Linked DNA regions of Homo sapiens: region 1 is linked to region 2. The links come from fine-mapping of genetic effects on gene expression. Tissue or cell type: monocytes after LPS. Region 2 holds a variant in brackets; the other region holds the start of a gene. All regions are shown on one strand. Distances are from middle to middle.

Region 1 (9,585 bases), 56 kb after region 2:
CAACAGCACCACCTCCCTCCCAAGTCTCTTCCCTTCCCACTCTCAGGCCACTGCCCACCTCACTCAGCCCAGGCAGGTGTCTCTATCAGGTGAGAGAAAAATGTCAGACTCAATAAATGTACACTGAAGTCTTTCTGCTTTCATCTCATACCTGGCAATATTTATATGTTAATAGGAATCATCAGGGCAGTCCTTTTTATAACCTATTGAGTCCACTTGGGCCAGGTAAGAGTTCTGTGAAGTATAAACTAGTGTGTTCTGTCTCCTGCCCCTTGCTTACTCTGTCACTGCTCTGGAGTGCAGTGGCACAATCACAGCTCACTGCAGCCTCCATCTCTCAGGCCCAAGCGATCCTCCCACCTCAGCTTCTCAAGTAGCTGGGACCACAGGTGCATGACACCATGCCCTACTACATTTGGGATTTTTTGTTTTGGGGCCTTTTTTTTTTTTTTTTGACAGTCTTGCTCTGTCACCCAAGCTGGAGTGCAATGGCATGATCTCAGCTCACTGCAACCTCCACCTCCCGGGCTTAAGCGATTCTCCCTGCCTCAGCCTCCCAAGTAGCTAGGATTACCAGCATGCACCACCACGCCCTGCTAATTTTTGTACTTTTAGTAGAGACAGGGTTTCACCATGTTGGCCAGGTTGGTCTCAAACTCCTGACCTCAGGTGATCTGCCCGCCTCAGCCTCCCAAAGAGCTGGGATTACAGGCATGAGCCACTGCACCCGGCCGTTTTGGGGCTTTTTTTTTTTTTTTTTTTTTTTTTTTTGTAGAGATGAGGTCTTCCTAAGTTGCCCAGGCTGGTCTTGAATTCCTTGGTTCAAGGGATCCTCCCACCTCGGCCACCCAAAGTGCTGGGATTACAGGCGTGAGCCACCACACTGGCCAAGCCAGAGATTAAAGACACCAAAATTCTTGGCTTTTATGTTCAAAAACTTACATCCAAGTGTAAAATAGAAAGATCAATGACACATCTTCAGTTTCTTCATCCCCAGAAATAGGTATGGTGTGGGGGGAGAGTAACAGAGAAAACAAAAATGCTTGGACTTGAGTCCTATCACCTGTAGAAGATTCCCTTTTAAGTTTGGGAATCCAAGAATAGAGAAGAGGGCGCCTTGCTTTGGGCCAAATTGCCCCAGGAGTGGAAGCAAGTCTCAATGGCAGGATACCTTCTCAATGCCAAGGGGAGTGTAAGATGGACCACCTGGGGTGCAGAGCCAGAGGGGTCCAAGGTCAGTCTTAGAGAGATTCCCTGTGCTTGTACAGGACATGGGAAGCAGGCGGAGATTTTCTCGGGTGGCTGAAAGCAGGCAAGCTCAAAGGGAAAATGGTGCAGCTGCAGGCAGCAGTGTGGAGCATGGCACCTGAAGGCCAGGTGCAGAATTGTAGGCACCTCCACAGACTCCAGCATGGTGCAGTGAGGGAGGGAGCCTGGAGGATGCCATTCACTCCATTCTCACTGCCCCCACCCTGACTGATGGTTTTACTTGCCTGAAGCAATCCAGGTGTTTAGCCCAAGTTCCTGGGCAACATGGGCAGCCAGAGGCTGGGCGGGGCCCTTGGTCTAGCTCCAGGTGCACCCTGCAGGCCCCAGGACATGCCCCTCGCACACCTGCACATGTCCAGGCACATTGGAGTCTGACATCTGCCTCCCAGTGGAGATGAACCCAGGACAGGTCAGGACTGAGAAGTGGATGGATGCGCTATCCTCCACTGAGGCTGCCCACAGAAGAACCCAGGGAGGGGCAGGAGTAGGGCAATCATTAGTGTGACTGAGGTGGTTTTAAACCTGAAATGATTGCAGTAGCACTGAATTTGAGTGAGTTTACCTGGAGGAGACTAGATTTTATTTTTCCTGCCATTGGTATGATATAAACGGATTCATACCAATTTCATCACCAATCATTAGGTTTTCAGTAGATGTCTGCAGAGTTTACCAGTTTTTTAGGTTAAGTGAGGCCCCTGGGCCTGCTCCCCAACATACTCTCTACCAGCTGACAATGCAGGCAAGTCATAGGCCGAATTCCCTTACACATAGACATGTGTTGGCAAGCAGTTCCACTCCACCCCCAGCCAAATTAGGTGCTCTGAGCAAACCTTGTATGAAAAGTTTACTGAATCAGGAGCTGCACACTGGACCATTTTGAAGCAAAGCCTATAGCATCCTTCCAAAGGGTTTGGACTACTGGCATCTCTAGATTTTTTTTTTTTTTTTTTGAGACGGAGTCCCACTCTGTTGCCCAGGATGGAGTGCAGTGGCGTGATCTCGGCTCACTGCAAGCTCCACCTCCCGGGTTCATGCCATTCTCCTGCCTCAGCCTCCCAAGGAGCTGGGACTACAGGCACACACCACCACAACCAACTAATTTTTTTGTATTTTTAGTAGAGACAGGGTTTCACCGTGTAAGCCAGCATGGTCTCGATCTCCTAACCTCGTGATCCACCTGCCTCGGCCTCCCAAAGTGCTGGGATTACAGGCATGAGCCACCGCACCAGGCCATCTCTAGATTATTATAGCCTGTTCCAGCAAGAGAGGAAATGCCTTCAAAAAAATTATCTCCAATCCAGGTGGCTTGGACACCACTAATTTCACCAGTGAAAAACTATTTCTAATATCTATTATGTCCATTAGTGAAGACACTTCTGTTGATTTAAGATTGTCGACGTGCTTGTACTAGCTGTCTCTGTCTTTTTGATGAAATGCTAGCTAACCACCTCAAGTGTGTGTACTCTCAAACAGGGCACCAGACCACCCTTAGGTGTAGGTTAAAACTGTGCAGCACATACATATGGCTCTGGGGACTGCCATGTGCTGGCGATCGGCTGCAAGGAGTTCCCCTGGACGACTGCCATCAGCTGTCAGCCCTCCTTAGGGACTGTCCCAGCTGGAGACAACCATGTCACCCAAGGTCATGCCATTTCCGAGGGCAGTATGCATCCAATGAAACAATTCTAGGCCCCGGGGACAAAAATACCTGCCTTCCTGGAGCTTGGATTCTGGTGGAGACAGACAATAAACAAAGTCAACACATGAAATATAAGCCCGTAGTGCCTTGGTCAGTGATAAGTTCTAGAGAGAACGATCAAGTAGGGCAGGGGAGTGGGAGTCTTGGGGGCGGGGTGGGTACAGGGGTATGGGATTTGCGATGTCAGAGTGGACCGTGTTGATCTCTGTCTGTGGTTGGTCACTGATCAGGGTGCATTCCAGTACAGACCTGAAGAAGATGAGGGAGACAGCCTGGTGGATACCATTCATTCCATTCTGGCTCCCCCCCACGCCGACTCTGACGGTTTTACTTGCCTGAAGCAGTCCAGGCGTTTAGCTCAGGCTCCTGGGCCACATTGGCAGCCAGAGGCCAGGCGGGGCCCGAGGCCTAGCTCAGAGCGCACCCTACAGGCCCCCGGACGCGCCCCTAGCGCACCTGCGCACGTCCGGGCAGGTGGCCCGCGGAGGCGGTGGGACGTGGCAGGTGCGGCTCGCAGGTGCGCTGGCCCCGCCCCCACCTTCGCCCCCGCCCCGCCTCTCCCTCCGGGCGGGGCCCCTTTCGGTCCAACGGCAGGACCTGGGGGCTGTGGCCGGGGGCGGCCGTTGACCTGGTGACCGCGGCGCCGCCCCAGACCGGGGGCGCAGTCCCACTCGCTCCGAGCCCCGGTCCCCCAAGCCTCCCTCCCGGGTACCTGGGGCCGCGCCCGCCCTGCGCCCAGCTCCGCCCTCCGTCGGCCCAGGCCTGACAGAGCCCGGCAGCCATGAGTGCCAACCCCCGGTGGGACATCAGCAGGGCGCTGGGGGTGGCCAAGCTCTTCCACCTGGTGTGCGGGGTGCGGGAAGCCTGCGTGACCCCGTTCCTGACCCTTTACCTGAGGCAGCTGGGCTTGGCCGCGCCCTGGGTGGGCACCCTAATGGGAACCAAGCACCTAATCGCTGCCTTCTGGGCTCCCGTCTGTGCCTTCCTGGCCAAAAGCTACCGGAAAAGGAGAGCGCTTCTGATCGGCTCCCTGCTCGGCTCGGTGGGGGCCAGCCTGCTGATGGTCCTGGTCCCACCGGTAGACAAAAATCGGGTGCACTTCCCTTGTAATGGAAGCAGCGGCCTGACCAGCACAGACGCACTCCCGGGGGTCACGCTACCTGTGAACATCACCTCGGCCCAAGAGTCTGCCTCCAGCCACCCAGCCAAGAGGACTGCAGAGGTGGAAATGCCTGGCTTCAGAAACCCACCTGGTGAAAGTGACCGAGAAACTTTCCGTGATCTGCACGTCTACTTAGCGCCCTCCGTTGAAGGAGCTAGGACCACATCCCAAGCTCTCCTCCATCCTGTCACTTCGGGGCTGAAAGATCATCCCTGGGAAGTTACTTTTGAGGTGGTCAAGACAGCCCTCCCCTTGCTTCCTGGGGGGAAAGGGCCCGGGAATCCAGCCAATTTGTCAGGGACCAAGGGGAAAGCCTGGGCTTTTGACCTGTCCTTGGAGGCGTTGCGGCGGACTTTTATCCTCTCCTTGGGGTCCGTGGCGTTCTGGGAGCTGCTGACAGCGCCTCTGGAGCAGGTGGCAGATGACAGCCTTTATGAGTTCCTGGATTTTGTGGATGCCACTGACCGATACAGAAGCCTGTGGGTCTGGAGGTTGCTGGGCATGTCGGCAGGCGTGTGTGGCATCACAGCCTTGGTGGGGCAGCTGGACTGCTTCCTGATGACCAGTGGCCCCCGAGGTGTGGTCCACTTCTATGGGTACTCGGTGGTCAGCACCCTGGCCTTACTGGTGAGCATTGCCTTTCCCATTCCCATCTGTCAGCAGTGGGAGCCCAGCTACAAAAGGGTCAAAGCACTGTCCATTGTGGGGGGTGACCCCCACCTCATTCTCCTCGCCTCCACCACTGTTTTGGTAGGAGCCATCGTCAGTACTGTCCAGAACTTTCTGTTCTGGCACATGAAGGACCATGGGAGCGGCGAGCTGGTCATGGGTTTCTCGGTCGCCCTCAGCTTGCTGGGGGAAATTCTGCTTCATCCGTTCAAAGCTACATTGCTTAGGAAACTGTCCAGGACGGGCCTGGTGGGGCTGGGGCTGAGCTGCCTCGCTGGGCAGCTGCTGTACTACTCTTTCCTCTGGAGCTGGTGGTCCGTCCTCCCCATTCAGATCTTGAGTGCCATTAGCAACAGAGCTTTGTGGTGGGCTGTGGGGGCCTCAGTAGAGGACCTGGCCACTCCCCGCATGGAGAGGGCTCTGAGTGCCTTGTTCCGAGGCCACTTTTACGGGAGTGGCTGTAGCCTGGGCAGCTTTGTCGGGGGCTTCGTGGTGATGCGCTTCAGCCTGGCTGTGCTCTACCAGGCCTGCTGTGTGGCCCTGTTGCTCTGGTTGGCCTTGCTCCTGTCCATACAGCGGAGGCTGCCCCGAGAGCGGAAAATCAAGTACTCGAAGCTGCTGTCCATGGAGGTGAGTGACACCAGTGACTCTGAGCAGGGGACAGAACAGGACTGGCTTGTGAAGGCCATGAGGGAGGAACACTCAGACTGAAAGGGCTGAGAAATCCAGAGTGTGCTGATCCAGCAAGGAACGAATGGACTGAACAAAACTCAGCCTGCTGAGGACAGAAACCTGCCCTGGACTGCTGGGAGCCGGGGAAGAGAGGATGGGTCTGTGCTGAAGGCCCAACAGGATCATCTCATTGCATGATTTTCTTTACTTTTGAAGTAAAAGGAGATTTAACTTTTTGCCAATCTTTTTTAGATAATGGAGGAAGAATACATTTGCTTTTTAAAAAGTTCCCTCTATAGTCACTATATGTTTACGTTTAAGGTTTGCAAAAGTCCTGACTCAGGTGCTGTTGAATTCAGCAATGGCTGAAGCGATCAAATCAAACTGTCAGTGCCAGGAAGACCATGGGGACCTGCAGGATTCAGTTGGCAGAGAGGGCAGCTGACTTGGATGAATCATGGCATTCCCAGGGGTCATAAAGGCATTAGCCTGCTTCTGTGAAAGCCATGCTGTGGGCAGGTAAGAATGGTAATGGAGGACCGGGCGTGGTGGGTCATGCCTGTAATCCCAGCACTTTGGGAGGACGAGGCGGGTGGATCATGAGGTCAAAAGATCGAGACCATCCTGGCCAACATGGTGAAACCCCGTCTCTACTAAAGACACAAAAATTAGCTGGGCGTGGTGGCGCGCACCTGTAGTCCCAGCTACTCAGGAGGTTGAGGAAAGAGAATCACTTGAACCCTGGAGGTGGAGGTTGCAGTGAGCTGAGATCATGCCACTGCACTCCAGCCTGGTGACAGAGCAAGACTCCATCTCAAAAAAAGGATGGTAATGAAAACAAACTCCTTTCTGTTCCCACTGGTATACAGGTGCCCACACTCACACCCAAGTACTTCCAACAGGAGAAAATAATGGGAAATGTATGTGTGTTGGGGGGGAAGTGGGAGGTTAATAGGTTTCATTCTTACCTTCTCACACATGTGTGTCCCACTTAGAATCATCATCTATATTTACATCAGAGCAGGGGCAATTTCATGTCTTTTGAACTCACATTTTGCATGCTCTGCCTCACAAAGCACATGGAGATTTTAACATCTGTTTTATTGGGGTGCAGACATCTCCATAGGTCAGGGTGCTATAGGTTCTCCATGCTGTACCTGTGCCCAGGCACTTGGTGGGGTTTTGGGAGTGACAAACTAGTGCTTCTGCCTTCCCAAACTCCCCCAGGGGAAGGGCCTGGAATAAAGGGCCATTTATTTCAGAGGCCAGTCCCAGGGCCCAATTCTTCGACCTTATCATTAGTTAAACATAGGATATTGAATTTAGAAGAAGCCTCACTGCACAAATGCAGAAAACGTCTCACAGCTGGAGAAGGGGAAGCAGATATATGAATGTCCACTGGGTCAGACATGGTTCTAGGATCTTTATTTGTTGTTGTTGTTGTTTGTTTTTTTGTTTTGTTTTGTTTTGTTTTGAGACAGAGTCTCACTCTGTCGCCAGGCTGGAGTGCAGTGGCGCCATCTCGGCTCACTGCAACCTCCAAGTCCCTGGTTCAAGCGATTCTCCTGCCTCAGCCTGCCAAGTAGCTGGGATTACAGGCGTGCACCACCACACCCAGCTATTTTTTGTGTGTGTGTGTTTTTAGTAAAGATGAGGTTTCACCATGTCGACCAGGATGGTCTCGATTTCCTGACCTCGTGATCTGCCCGCCTCAGCCTCCCAAAGTGCTGGGATTATAGGCGTGAGCCACTGCACCTGGCCCTTTATTTGTTTTTTAATTCTCCCTAAGAAGTTTAAGGTACAAATAATCAACAAAAAAATTACCTCCACCCTAAACAATAGAGATTTGTCTCATATATATATAAAACATTTAGGGGTGGGCAGCCCAGAGATGCTGCCACTGCTGGATGATGCCACTAGGGATCTAGAATCTTTTCATCTCCTCACACTGTCATACTCAGCCTGTAAGCTACCCTCCCAGATTTGTACCCTCATAGGAACAAGATGGCTGCTGCTCTGCCAAGCCTTTCATCCATGTTCCAGGCAGTAAGAAAAGGGGAAGACAATAGGGCAAAGGGAGAAACAGGAACAAGTGTCTGTATCAAGAAAATAGGCTGCACGGTGGGTGGCTCACGCCTATAATCCCAGCACTTTGGGAGGCCGAGGCAGGAGGATTGCTTGAGCCCAGGAGTTGGAGACCAGCCTGGGAAACATGGTGAGACCTTGTCTCTTAAAAAAAAATAATAATTAGCCAGGTATGGGGTGTGCATCTGTAGTCTCAGCTACTCATGAGGCTGAGGTGGGAGGATAGCTTGAGCCCAGGAGTTTAAGACTGCAGTGAGTTGTTTGTGCCAATGCACTCCAGCCTGGGTTACAGAGCAAGACCCTGTTTCCAAACAAACAAACAAACAAACAAACAAGAAAAAGGAAAGATAAGCCTTCCCAGAAACTCCTCAGCAGAGAGAACCGTGTCACATGGCCACCCAGCTGCAAGGAAGTCTGGGAGGAAGTATTTTCAACTAGGCACAGTTACACACCAAGCAAAATCAGGGTTGCGTTAGGAAGAGGGGGCTGGATATAGAATTGGCAACTAACGACATCTGCAGCGGCCTCCACGATGGAACTCACAGCCGGGTCCAGCTTATTGCAAAGCCTGCATTCCTTTCACCCCACTAAGCCAGCTTCCCCGACAGAAATGACTTTAGTAATGTGACCCCCACAACTACTCTATGAATAAATCAAATTTGTTATCTGCATTTTACAAATGAGAAAGTGTAGTCTCAGAAGTCACACACTGGGTCACTGGCAGAAATACTACCAGAGTCCTGGATTTCCTTACTCCAAATTTGGGGCATTTTCTTCTGTGCCGGTAGTCTGGCTGTCGATCCAAGTAGGAGGAGCATTTGCAAAAAGCCAGGTTCCTGGGTTCCACCAGAATCTCACAGGTGGGGCTCAGTAATCTGCATTTTTGGAGCAATCTCCGAGTGATTCTGATGTGGTTAACCAAGCACTGTTTACTCGGTTGTCCTTTCCAGCTCTATTTGTCTCAACAGTTCTTTGCCAAATGTTTCCATTTGCAGTGAAACAAATAACAACTATTGAGTGGTCACTCTAGGCCAGGCACTGTTCTAAACAAGGTACGTGGTGTACGCGTACTAGCTCATCAAGTAATCATAGGACGTAGTCACCATTAGCATCTCCAGTTTCAGATGGCAGAACCGAAGGTTCAGTAACTTGCCTGAGGTCACGCAGCTAGTAAGTGGCAGAGTTGGTATTCAGATCCAGCCTGGTGGTTCCTGGGCCTGAGATTTTAATCACTGTGCTCTATGCTGGAGAAATTGAGGGGAAAGAGGGGGGGGATTAAATATTAAGATCTAAGGTAGCCATCACTTGAAATTGACTGGATAGTAGATAATATTTACTATTTCAACAGAACATACAATAATACCAAAAAGCAAACACATGTATGTCCTCTTAAACAAAAGGATGAGGAACAGGAACTGGCTTAAGAAAAGAGTTAAGTAAGTGTGATCTAGCCTGAACAAGAGGAAGAAGGAAGAGAAAAAGAAGCGTGAGTTGGGGGGAGGGGGTGTACAGGACAAGACCGAAGACTGAGGGAGGTGATGATTGATGGATCTAAAAGATTTTAAGGGAAGGATGGGAGGCCAAGATGTTCATTTGGGCTATTTAGTTAATGTTTGACTTTATGTTTTCTTTAATGTATGAAGCCCCTTTTTCCAAAGGGGAAAAAAAAAGTTGTGCTACTTGCCATGGGGAATTCAAGGATGAATAAAATGCACAGTCCACACCCTCAAGAAGCTAACAGTCTAACTAGAAGATTTACTTACACACACACACAAACACACAAACACACACACAACACACACACACACACGGAAGCACAGGACAGTGTGGGAGATGCTGCAGAAAAAGTATTACTAGAGTTTAAGAAAGAGAACATTTCTGACTCAATAACTCAAATAAGGTTTTGTGGAGATTATATTTAAGTCTAAGTCTTCAAGGATAGGTAAAGTTTATTTATTTATTTATTTTTACTTTTGTTTTATTTATTTATTTTTTTTCTGAGATGGAGTCTTGCTTTGTCGCCCAGGCT
Region 2 (11,176 bases):
CTAGACAGAGCAAAGTCTCTGAGAGTCTCTTACATGAGTCTGCGAAATGGTTAGTCTTCTTAAGCATTGTATTAGTCAGGCCACTCCAGAGGAACACAACAAATAGGATAGAGAGAGAGACTGGGAGGTGGGTGGGGAGTGGGTAGAGAACAAAAGGATGTATTAGCAGGGATTGGCTCCTGTGATTGTGGAGGCTGAGAAGTCTGTAATCCGTGGTCTGTAAACTAGAGGCCCAGGAAAGTCAGTGGTGTAATTCCAGTCTGAGTCCAAAGGCCTGAGAACCAGGGAAGATGACGGCGTCAGTCTCAGTCCAAGTCCGAAGGCTGGAGAACCAAGAGCGCTGATTTTGTCCAAGGGCAGGATGGATGTCCCAGCTGAAGCACAGAGAGCACATCTGCCCTTCCTCCTCCCTCTTCTCCTATTCAGGCCCTCAGCAGATCACGTGATGCCCACCCACATGGCTGAGGGCAGATCTTGACTCACTCCCTGCATTCAGATGCTCATCTTTCCTGGAAATAGCCTCATGGACACCTCCAGAAATAATGCTTCACCAGCCATCTGGGCCTCCCTTGGCCTGGTCAAGTTGACACATAAACCATCACAAGCATGCTGCGTGCATGGGGCGGTGAGACAGTTTCAGTGTGCTAATGGTGGGCCATAGGTGTGTGACGTCTGTTCCAGGGGTCTTGGGCAAGTACAGCCACCCTGCGGTCATTATGAGGTGACAGACTGGTAGACCACGCACCCCAGGGGGCAAGGACTATGTCTCATTCATTCATCTCTAACCTCTCAGGTCTTGTGCAATTTCTGCCCCATGGATTATGTTCTGAAGAGGCTCTTTGATTTACTCACCAACCTCAGCCACCCAAAACACTGCCAGGAACTCAGAAGACAGCCAGAGGGCCCTCTGAGCAAATAGAAGTTGCAAGTCCATGGATGGAAGTTTGATGCTCTTTTCATTGATCAGTTCTCAGGCTTTGTTTCTTCATTTTACATACAAGACAATTGCATGTGCTTATTCCGGCTTCCCAGCCTTCAGCAAACTGGCAGTTGGGTGGAGGAGCAGACACAGCCCAGGCAGGGCTGCAGCCAACACAGAAGGCACTTTGTTCAAATCAGAAAGAGGCACCCCTCTGAGTAGACAAATTACAGCAAGTTCCTCTTTGGATGGATGAATTGCAAAACCTCACCCTCCCTGCCTGAGTAAATTACAAAAAGGCCAGCAGAGCGGTGGGCTGGACTGCAGCCTCCACTCACCCACTAAGTGCAGAACACAGCTGGTGCTGCTGAAATGAGGAATCATACATGAGAAGTCAAACAGTAACAGCCACTCAATGTAGGATAGGGCTACCCTCGCCTACTGATAGCTCCTGCCATCGCCACCGTTTTATGGCACGGTGCATACAATGAGCTTCCATTGAGACTCATTGAGAAAACAGCCAGGCGCCTGGCTCACGCCTCTAATCCCAGCACTCTGGGAGGCCGAGGTGGGTGGATCACCTGAGGTCAGGAGTTCGAGACCAGCCTGGCTAACATGGCGAAACCCTGTCTCTACTAAAAATACAAAAATTAGCCAGGGGTGGCGGCGGGTGCCTGTAATTCCTAGCCTCAGGGAGGCTAAGGCAAGAGAATCGTTTGAACCCAGGAGGCGGAGGTTGCAGTGAGCCGAGATCGCGTCACTGCACTCCAGCCTGGGCGACAAGAGCAAAACTGTCTCAAAAAAAAAAAAAAAAAAAAAAAAAGATTAATTGAGAAAACATTCAGAGGCATGGTTTGGTGCTTGAAAGGGCAAGCTTTATTTCCTAAAAAATTCTTCTCATTCCTGAAACGAAGACACATTTGATGTTGATGCATTTTAAGAATGAGCTGCTTCTATTTCCATTTCCTGTCTACGTGCAAGCTCATCCCCTGGGGGCTCTTCCCCCACACTGGTGTGGTCAGCAGCCCCAAAGGACAGGAAATCGACCACAAAGGTCTCCTGTGGGAGGAGCAAGGAAGCAGCACCTGCACAAATATATAGAAACGCTGAATAAATGTTTGATGAGTGAATGCGTGAGTGAATGAAGGAATGAGCAAATGAATAGGGAGGCTTTCTGACAGTTACTGGTAAAGTTTCTTAGAATTTTACTTTCCCTTTTTTTTTTTTTTTTTTGAGACAGAGTTTCACTCTTGTTGCCCAGGCTGGTGTGCAGTGGCACGATTGCAGCTCACTGCAACCTCTGCCTCCCGGATTCAAGCGATTCTCCTGCCTCAGCCTCCCAAGTAGCTGGGATTACTGGCACCTGCCGCCACACCCAGCTAATTTTTTGTATTTTTAGTAGAGACGGGGTTTCACCATGTTAGCTAGGATGGTCTCGATCCCTGATCTTGTGATCCGCCTGCCTCAGCCTCCCAAAGGGGAATTTTACTTTCAATTAAAAATCAGCCCAGAAGCACTCTCCATTTGCCACAAAAATTCCTGGTATCTTACACTTCTCTTTTAGTCTTTATCTGTGAGATTTCTTTTCTTTCGAGGCTGCCCCGTGTTCATTATTAACCCAGGCCGCCCCAGACAGAAGTTTGTGTTCATTTTATTTCACAAAGACAGAGGGGGGTTCTGTGAGGTTTACAGAGGGGAAAGGAAGGCATGCGGACGTCAGGGGAAGTGGCCATGACCCCACGCCCCAGGTTGAGATCTGGGCTCTAGCCCTGGTTCTATCCTTCATGGCCACGTGGCTTTTGGCAATATTCTTCACTTTCATTCATTCATCAAATATTTATCTAAAATAGGTATTCATTGTCCACTGAGTGGCTGCTGCCCTAGATGCTGGACATGCTGCAGTGAAGGAGACACGCCCCATCCCAGTATTTGCCGAGTTCGCATTCTAATGACTAGCCAAGAAAACTAAGCCTGACAGGAAAAATTTCCATACTGATAAATGCTATGAATAAAATCAGAGTGTGCTAGAGTGTGACAGGGAGGGCTATTTTGGACAGGATGTTCAGGAAAGGCCTCTGAGGCAGTGACATTGACAACAAGACCTGAATGTCGAGGGGGAGCCAGCTGTGGGGAAAGCTGGGGGAAGGGTGCTCCAGGCAGGGGTGTGCAAAGGTTACGTTAAACCCACAGCACAACGTTCTTAAATTGACTGGCGGGCTCCCAGATGTTCATGTAATTACTATGTCCCTGAACATAATATATTAGCTCTCTTCTTTTGTGTGTGCCATCTGTTACACAGTAAAAAATAAGGTCAAATATACTTAAGATTAAGAAATCAGAAAATGTAGAAATGTATTAAAAATTACCTGTGACCCCACTGTTTATGGGTAAGTAATATCACTTTTTTTGTAGTTTAGTGTGTATCATTAAAAGGTAAGAGACTGACACACACACAAGTACAGGTGAAACTGGGGAAATCGGAATAAAATGTATCGACATCAACATCCTGGGGTTTTTTGTTTGTTTGTTTTTGAGATGGAGTTTCACTCTTTCACCCAGGCTGGAGTGCAGTGGTAAGACCTCAGCTCACTGCAAACTCCATCTCCTGGGTTCAAGCGATTCTCCTGCTTCAGCCTCCCGGGTAGCTGGGATTACAGGCACCTGCCACCATGCCTGGCTAATTTTTGTATTTTTATTAGAGACGTGGTTCCACCATTTTGGCCAGCCTGGTCTCGAACTCCTGACCTCAAGTGATCCACCTGCCTCACCATCCCAAAGTGTTGGGATTATAGGCGTGAGCCACCACGCCTGACCAATATCTTGATTTTGATACAGTAACATTGTTTGCAAGATGTTATCACTGGGGGGAAACTGGGTAAAGGGTACCCAGAAACTCTGTGCTATTTCTTGCCACTGCATGGGAATTTACAGTTATCTCAGAATTAAAAGTTTGACTAAAAAAGAGATAAAGACTCCTTTATCTGACACTGACCTATTTTCTGACCCTGTAGTTTTTATTTTCGTTTCTAGAATGTCATATAAATGGAACCATACGGCATGCAGGATTTAGCGCCTGGCTGCCTTTACTCAGCATGTCTCTGAGATTCACGCGTGTCGTTGCACGTAGTTCTCTTTTTAATGCCGAGGATTCTGCTGTGTGGGTGTATCACAGTTTGCTCATTCACGTACCCACTGAAGGCATTTGTGTTGTTTCCAGTTTGGGGCCATTCTGAATAGAGCTGCTATATATATCCATGAGCAGGTGTTTGTGTGAACATAAGTTTTTATTTCTCTGGAGGAAAAAGCTAGGGATTACGGGATCATACAGTAAGTGACGCATAACTTTATGAGAAATTGTCAAACTGTTTTCCAGAACGGCTGTGCCATTTTGCATTCTCACCAGTAACGTATGAGAATTCCAATTCCTCCTGACGGGTTGATGGGTGCAGCAAACCACCATGGCACGTGTATACCAATGTAACAAACCTGCACGTTCTGCACATGTATCCCAGAACTTAAAGTATAATTTTTAAAAAGAGAGAATTTCAGTTCCTCCGTGTGCTCTCCAGCACTTTCTATTGCTCATTTTAAAATCTTAGTCATTCTAATAGGCATATAGTGAGATCTCATGGTTTTCATCTGCCTTTCCCAAACTGCTGATAGCATTGAGCATTTTTTTAATGTGTTTATTTGCCATCCACATATCTTTTTTAGTAAAGTATTTATTTAGATCTTTTGCCCATTTGGGGAGTATTATTTGTTTTCTTACTGTTGAATTTTGAGAGTTATTTATTTATCCTAGTTTTCTTTTTTTTTTCTTTGTCAGATGTGATTTGCAAATATTTTCTCTAGGTCTATACTTTGCTTCTTCATTTTATTTTATTATTTTATTTTATTTTATTGTTGTTTTGTTTTGTTTTGTTTTGTTTTGTTTTGTTTCTGAGATGGAGTCTCGCTCTGTCACCCAGGCTAGAGTCCAGTGGCACGATCTCAGCTCACTACAACCTCTGCTGCCCGGGTTCAAGTGATTCTCCTGCCTCAGCCTCCTGAGTAACTGGGATTACAGGCATGAGCCACCACAGCCAACTAATGTTTGTATTTTTAGTAGAAATGGGGTTTCACTATATTGGCCAGGCTAGTCTTGAACTCCTGACCTCAGGTGATCCACCCACCTTGGCCTCCCAAATGTTGGGATTACAGGTGTGAGCCACTGTGCCCGGCCCGTTTTTTCATTTTGTTAAAGGTATCTGTCATAAAACCAAAGTTTTAAATTTTGATGAAGTCTAATTTGTCATGTTTTTCCTCTTATGGATCATGCTTTGGTATTGTATCTAAAAACTTCTTCCTTCACATGAGGTTACAAGGATTTTTTCCTATGCTTTCTTCTAAAAGTTTATTGTTTTGAATTTTACATTCAAATCTATGTCCACTTTTAGTTTATTTTTGTGTAAGGTCTGGAATTTACGTCAAGGTTTTGCTTCTTGTTTTGCATATCGATGATCAATTGTTCCATCACCATTTGTTGAAAAGACTCCTTTCTCCATTGACTTGCCTTTACAACTTTATCAAAAATCAATTAGCCATATCTGTGTGGGCCTGCTTCCGAACTCTTCGTTCTGTTCCATTGATTTATGTGTCTAGCCCTTCACTAATAACTTTATAGTAATTCTTAAAATAAGGAGTGCGAAGCTGAGCGTGGTGGCTCACACCTGTAATCCCAGCACTTTGGGAGACCGAGGCGGGAGGATAACGAGGTCAGGAGTTCAAGACCAGCCTGGCCAACATAGTGAAACCCTGTCTCTACTAAAAATACAAAAATTACCTGGGCATGGTGGCGTGTGCCTGTAGTCCCAGCTACCTGGGAGGCTGAAGCAGGAGAATTGCTTGAACCCAGGAGGCGGAGGTTGCAGTGAGCCAAGATCACGCATCGCACTCCAGCCTGGCGACAGAGCAAGACTCCGTTTCAAAAAAAAATAAAAATAAAGGAGTGTGAGTTCTCAGGCATTATTCATTTTCAAAACTGTTTGGCTAATCCAATTCCTCTGCCTTTCCCTATAAACTTTAGAATTGACTTATATGTATCTACAAAAAAAAATCCTGCTGGTATTTTTATTGGAATTACCTTAAATATGTAAATGATTTTGGAGAGAATTGACTTTTTTTTTTTTTTTTCAGACGGAGTCTCTCTCTGTCACCAGGCTAGAGTACAGTGGCATGATCTCAGCTCACTGCAACCTCCGCCTCCTGGGTTCAAACGATTCTCCTGCCTCAGCCTCCCGAGTAGCTGGGACTACAGGCGCATGCCACCACACCCAGCTAATTTTTTCCATTTTTAGTAGAGACAGGGTTTCATCATGTTAGCCAGGATGGTCTTGATCTCCTGGCCTCGTGACCTGCCCCCCTTGGCCTCCCAAAGTGCCGGGATTACAGATGTGAGCCACTGTGCCTGGCTGAGAATTGACATCTTAACTATACTGGGTCTTCCAAACAATGAACACAGTATTTCTCTCCATTTATTTAGGTCTTCTGTGATTTATCTAATTAGCATTTCATAGTTTTCATCATATGGCTCCTGCACGTTTTGTTAGATTTATCTCTAAATATTTATTTATTATTTTATTATTATTATTATTATTTTTTTTTTTTTTTGAGATGGAGTCTTGCTCTGTCACCCAGGCTGGAGTGCAGTGGCACAATCTCGGCTCACTGCAAGCTCCACTGCCCGAGTTCACACCATTCTCCTGCCTCAGCCTCCCGAGTAGCTGGGACTACAGGC[A/G]CCCGCCACCACCCCTGGCTAATTTTTTGTATTTTTAGTAGAGACGGGGTTTCACCATGTTAGCCAGGATGGTCTCCATCTGCTGATCCTGTGATCTGCCCCCCTCGGCCTCCCAAAGTGCTGGGATTACAGGCGTGAGCTACTGCGCCCCACCTAAATATTTATTTAAAAAAAAAATTTGGAGCTATTGTAAATGGTATTGTATCTTCCGAATTCAGCCAATACAGATGTACACCATAATTTTATAACTGCATAGTATTTTGTTGCACAGATTAATTTATTTACTTGGTACTCTATAATTGTGCCTTTATTTTTTTTTTCTGGTTGTACTCTATTGTTAACAATGTTTTAATGAATGCTGTTGTACATATCATTTATCCATTTGTCCAATATTTCCCTTCAGATAGGTTTTTAAAGGTCGAATTGCTTAGACAAAAAAGTATGAATATTTTGAATTTTGATAAATATTGTCCAGCAATCACCCAGAAAGGCTATACTAATTTCTCTTCTCACCAACTATGTATGACTGGAAATTTTCTCATATCCTATCCTTGCCAATACTGGATGTCATTATCTTTTGTCATAATTTTTGCCACTCTCTCTCTTTTTTTTTTTTTTTGAGACAGAGTCTCCCTCTGTCACCCAGGCTGGAGTGCAGTAGCGACATCTTGACTCACTACAACCTCCACCTCCCAGGTTCAAGTGATTCTCCTACCTCAGCCTCCCAAGTAGCTGGGATTACAGGCACACGCCACCACACCTGGCTAATTTTTTTATTTTTTAGTAGAGACGGGGTTTCACCACGTTGGTCAGGCTGGTCTCGAACTCTTGACCTCATGATCCGCCCACCTCGGCCTCCCCAAGTGCTGGGATTACAGGTGTGAGCCACCGCACCTGGCCTGCCACTCTCATTTTAATATTCATTTCTATGATTGTCAGTAGGCTGAAATTGTAGTACATTATAATTACAATCCATTGCTGAATTCAATGAGTTGATATCTACTTTTAAATGTTATATCGATATTTGCATGTAAGTGTGGTCTAGTTTGCTATTTTGGTAAAATATGGATATGTAAAATTTACCATCTTAACCATTTTTAAGTATATAATTCAATGGCATTAAGTACATTCACAATATTGAGCAACCATTACTGCTATCCATTTCCAGAACCTTCTCATCATTCCAAACAGAGACTCTGTACCCATTAAACAGTAACTTCCCTTTCATCCCTTCCCCAGTCCCTGGTAACCTCTGTCATACTTGCTGTCTCTGCCTCTGTGAATTTGCCTATTCTAGGTATCTAATATTAGTGGAATTATACAATATTTGTCCTTTTATGACTGACTTACTTCACTCAGCATAATGTTCTCAAGGTTCATCCATGATGCAGCATATATCTGAATTTCATTCCTTTTTAAGGCTGAATAACTTTCCACTCTATGTATAAATCATATTTTGTTTATCTGTTCATTGCTTCTCTGTTGATGGACATTTGAGTTGCTTCTACCATTTTGCTGTTTTGAATAATGCTTCTATTAATATTGGTGTGCAAGTATCTGTTTGAGTTCCTGTTTTCAATTCGTTTGGGTCTTTACCTAAAAGTGAAATTGTTAGATCATGTGATAATTCTATGCTTGACTTTTTGAAGAACATGCCATACGATTTTCCACAGCGGCGATGCCATGTTGAATTCCCACCAGCAATGCACCACATCCTCCCAGAGTCTGCGCCCCAGAGCAATAAACTCAATGACTGGAAAGCAGGGGGACTCCAAACAAATCCAATTTCTCCACATCCTTGCCAATGCTTGTTATTTTGTGGTTTTTTGTTTGGTTGGTTTGTTTTGTTTTGTTTTGTTTTGGGACGGAGTCTCACTCTGTCGCCCAGGCTGGAGTGCAGTGGCGCGATCTCGGCTCACTGCAAGCTCCGCCTCCCGGGGTTCACGCCATTCTCCTGCCCCAGCCTCCCAAGTAGCTGGGACTACAGGCGCCCACCACCACGCCCGGCTAATTTTTGTATTTTTAGTAGAGACAGGGTTTCACCATGTTAGCCAGGATGATCTCCATCTCCTGACCTCGTGATCTGCCCGCCTCGGCCTCCCAAAATGCTGGGATTACAGGAGTGAACCATCGTGCCCGGCCGGTTTTTTGTTTTTTTGTTTTTGTTTTTTTTTTCTGTATATCTAAAATGGTCATTCCAATGGGTGTGAAGTGCGTGATCCATTTTTTTTTTAACTACCTTTATTAGATTTTGGTATCAAGGTGAAGCTGGCCTTGTCCAATAAACTGAGAATCTTCTCTTCTTTCTCCATGCTTTGGAGCAGATTAAATAACGTAGATATTTTCTTTGTAGGTTTGAAAAAACTTATCAGAAGAACTATCTGAGCCAGACACCACTCTCTTAGAGCTAGTTCTTTGACAACTGTCTCTATTTCCTCACTGGTTACAAATATAAGCAGTTTTTCTAACTCTTCTAGAGCCTTTTGAGTCATTTTTATTGTCCTAGAAAACCATGTGCGACACAGGGGACTCAGATTTTCTTTTTTGGTATAAAGAAATATATATATGACATTTATCATTTCTAATATTGTCTCTTCGTTATCTCTTTTTAGATTAGCTTTCCCAGTTATACGTTTGTTTGTTTGTTCGCTTGTTTTCTCTCCAAAAACAATCTCTTAGGTTTATTTGGAGTTCCTCTGCGTTCTAGTCATTGGGTTTATCGCTCTGGGGAGCAGACTCTGGGAGGACCTCCCACTGGGGTCACAGTGGAGCAGACAGAGGTCATGCTTAAGGGAGGGCTCTAGAGCCAGACGGTCTGAGTTCCAAGTCCTCATTCCTTGCTTACTAGCTATTTAACTTTGAATAGCTATTTACCCTCTCTGTGTTTCAGTTTCCCCATCTGCAGAACTGGGGAGGGGGGAGAGATAGAACCTGCCTCATAAGCTTAATATTAATATTAAAAAGTTGGCATTTCTTAAGTGCTTAGAAGAGTGATGCCTGGCACATAGTAAGCACTATATAAGTTTTCTCTTTTTTCTTTCTTTTTTTTTTTTTTTTGAGCCAGTCTCACCCTTGCCCAGGCTGGAGTGCAATGGCACCATCTCAGCTCACTGCAACATCCGCCTCCCAGGTTCAGGCGATTCTCCTGCCTCAGCCTCCTGAGTAGCTGGAATTACAGGCACCTGCCACCATGCCCAGCTAATTTTTTGTATTTTTAGTAGAGACGGGGTTTCACCATGTTTGTTGGGCTGGTCTCGAACTCCTGACCTCAAGTGATCCACCCGCCTTGGCCTCCCAACGTGCTGGGATTACAGGCATGAGCCACTGCACCCAGTCATAAGTTTTCTTAAATACATCTAGACTTCCCCCCAGTGTGCTAGAAGCCTAGGTCCCTTAGGAGCTTCTCCATTTCCCAAGGTGCTTTCTGCACCTTCCCACTGCTTCCACTAATTAACTACCTCTTATTTTGCAGAACCACCTCTGTGCAGAAAAGCAACCACCTTGTTCTCTATTCTGCTGCCCGAGACAACCACATCCTCCTCCTCCTACACCCAAAGGCTCCCATGGAGAGCTCAGGTCAGTGTGGTGGGGGGAAAGGGGTCTAGTGAGCCTGCTGCCGAGTGGGGAAGGCCCTTCTCATGGGTGAGGATGCCTCTAGGGCTGGCAGGACCCCCTGCACATAGACAGGCTGCAAGACCCCAATTCAGGGATCCTGCCTAAATGTAAGAACATCTTGAGAGTTGGACATCTACACACTTGCACAAGGCTCCAACTGCTCGCTGGACACTGAGCTTGACAATGGGAATAATGACAAGAATAGCCAAGATTGATTGCCAAATACTTGTGACTATTTAACAAAAACCTATATAGCACTTACAATGGATTGAGGAGGGATAAAAGCACTTGACAAATATGAACTCATTTAGTCTTGGTTAACCTCCTAAGACAGGTATTATTACTCTCGTTTTACAGGAGGGGAAATGGAGGCATGCCAGGGGCAGGTACTTTTCCCCCAGTCACATAGCTATTGAGTGGTCAAATCAGGAGTGGAACCCAATAGTCTAGCTCCAGTGTCTAGGCTTAATGATTTCAGTATGGATTGCTTCGCAAAAATGCCAGAAGGATTCTGTGAGGTGGGGCTAGCACGATGATTATCCTCATTTTTCTGAGAGGTAAACTGAGGCTTGGAGAGGTTATATAATTTGCTCAAAGCCACACAGCTAGTAAGTGGCAAAGCCAGAAAGTGGGGCCTAGTCCGGCTGATTTTCAAAGCCTGGACTCTTACCCTAAGTCAACTTGGGACAACAGGGAAAGATGACCAACCCCCACCAAGATGTGTGTCATCTATTGGTCACCCGGAAAGTCAAAGATCACACCTTAGGCCACCACGCTGAGACTCTAATTCCCCTAAAGATCCATCTCCTGGGGAAGGGAAGGGCATCCCCTAGGCAGGGTCAGCTGCTCGGTTGCTAATATTCCTA

Evidence for each region. PIP is the estimated chance that this variant, and not a neighbour inherited with it, causes the effect.
Region 1: MFSD6L starts here. The variant in region 2 is fine-mapped to the expression of MFSD6L in monocytes after LPS (Quach 2016, PIP 0.95).

The regions. Positions count from the first base shown.
Region 1 is chr17:8,793,285-8,802,869 of GRCh38, reverse strand. MFSD6L (major facilitator superfamily domain containing 6 like) reads left to right here and starts at 3,505. Exons shown (of 1, transcript NM_152599.4): 1 at 3,505-5,760. The coding sequence starts at 3,750. The coding sequence ends at 5,510. It overlaps PIK3R6 (phosphoinositide-3-kinase regulatory subunit 6), which reads left to right. Exons shown (of 20, transcript NM_001010855.4): 20 at 1-148. RefSeq lists a silencer at 3,372-3,431.
Region 2 is chr17:8,848,877-8,860,052 of GRCh38, reverse strand. PIK3R6 (phosphoinositide-3-kinase regulatory subunit 6) reads left to right here. Exons shown (of 20, transcript NM_001010855.4): 2 at 10,168-10,271. The coding sequence starts at 10,259. Among named protein-coding and RNA genes, the nearest start is that of PIK3R6, 13 kb to the left of the region's middle. RefSeq lists an enhancer at 354-613. The variant A/G (reference allele first, on the strand shown) is at 6,696.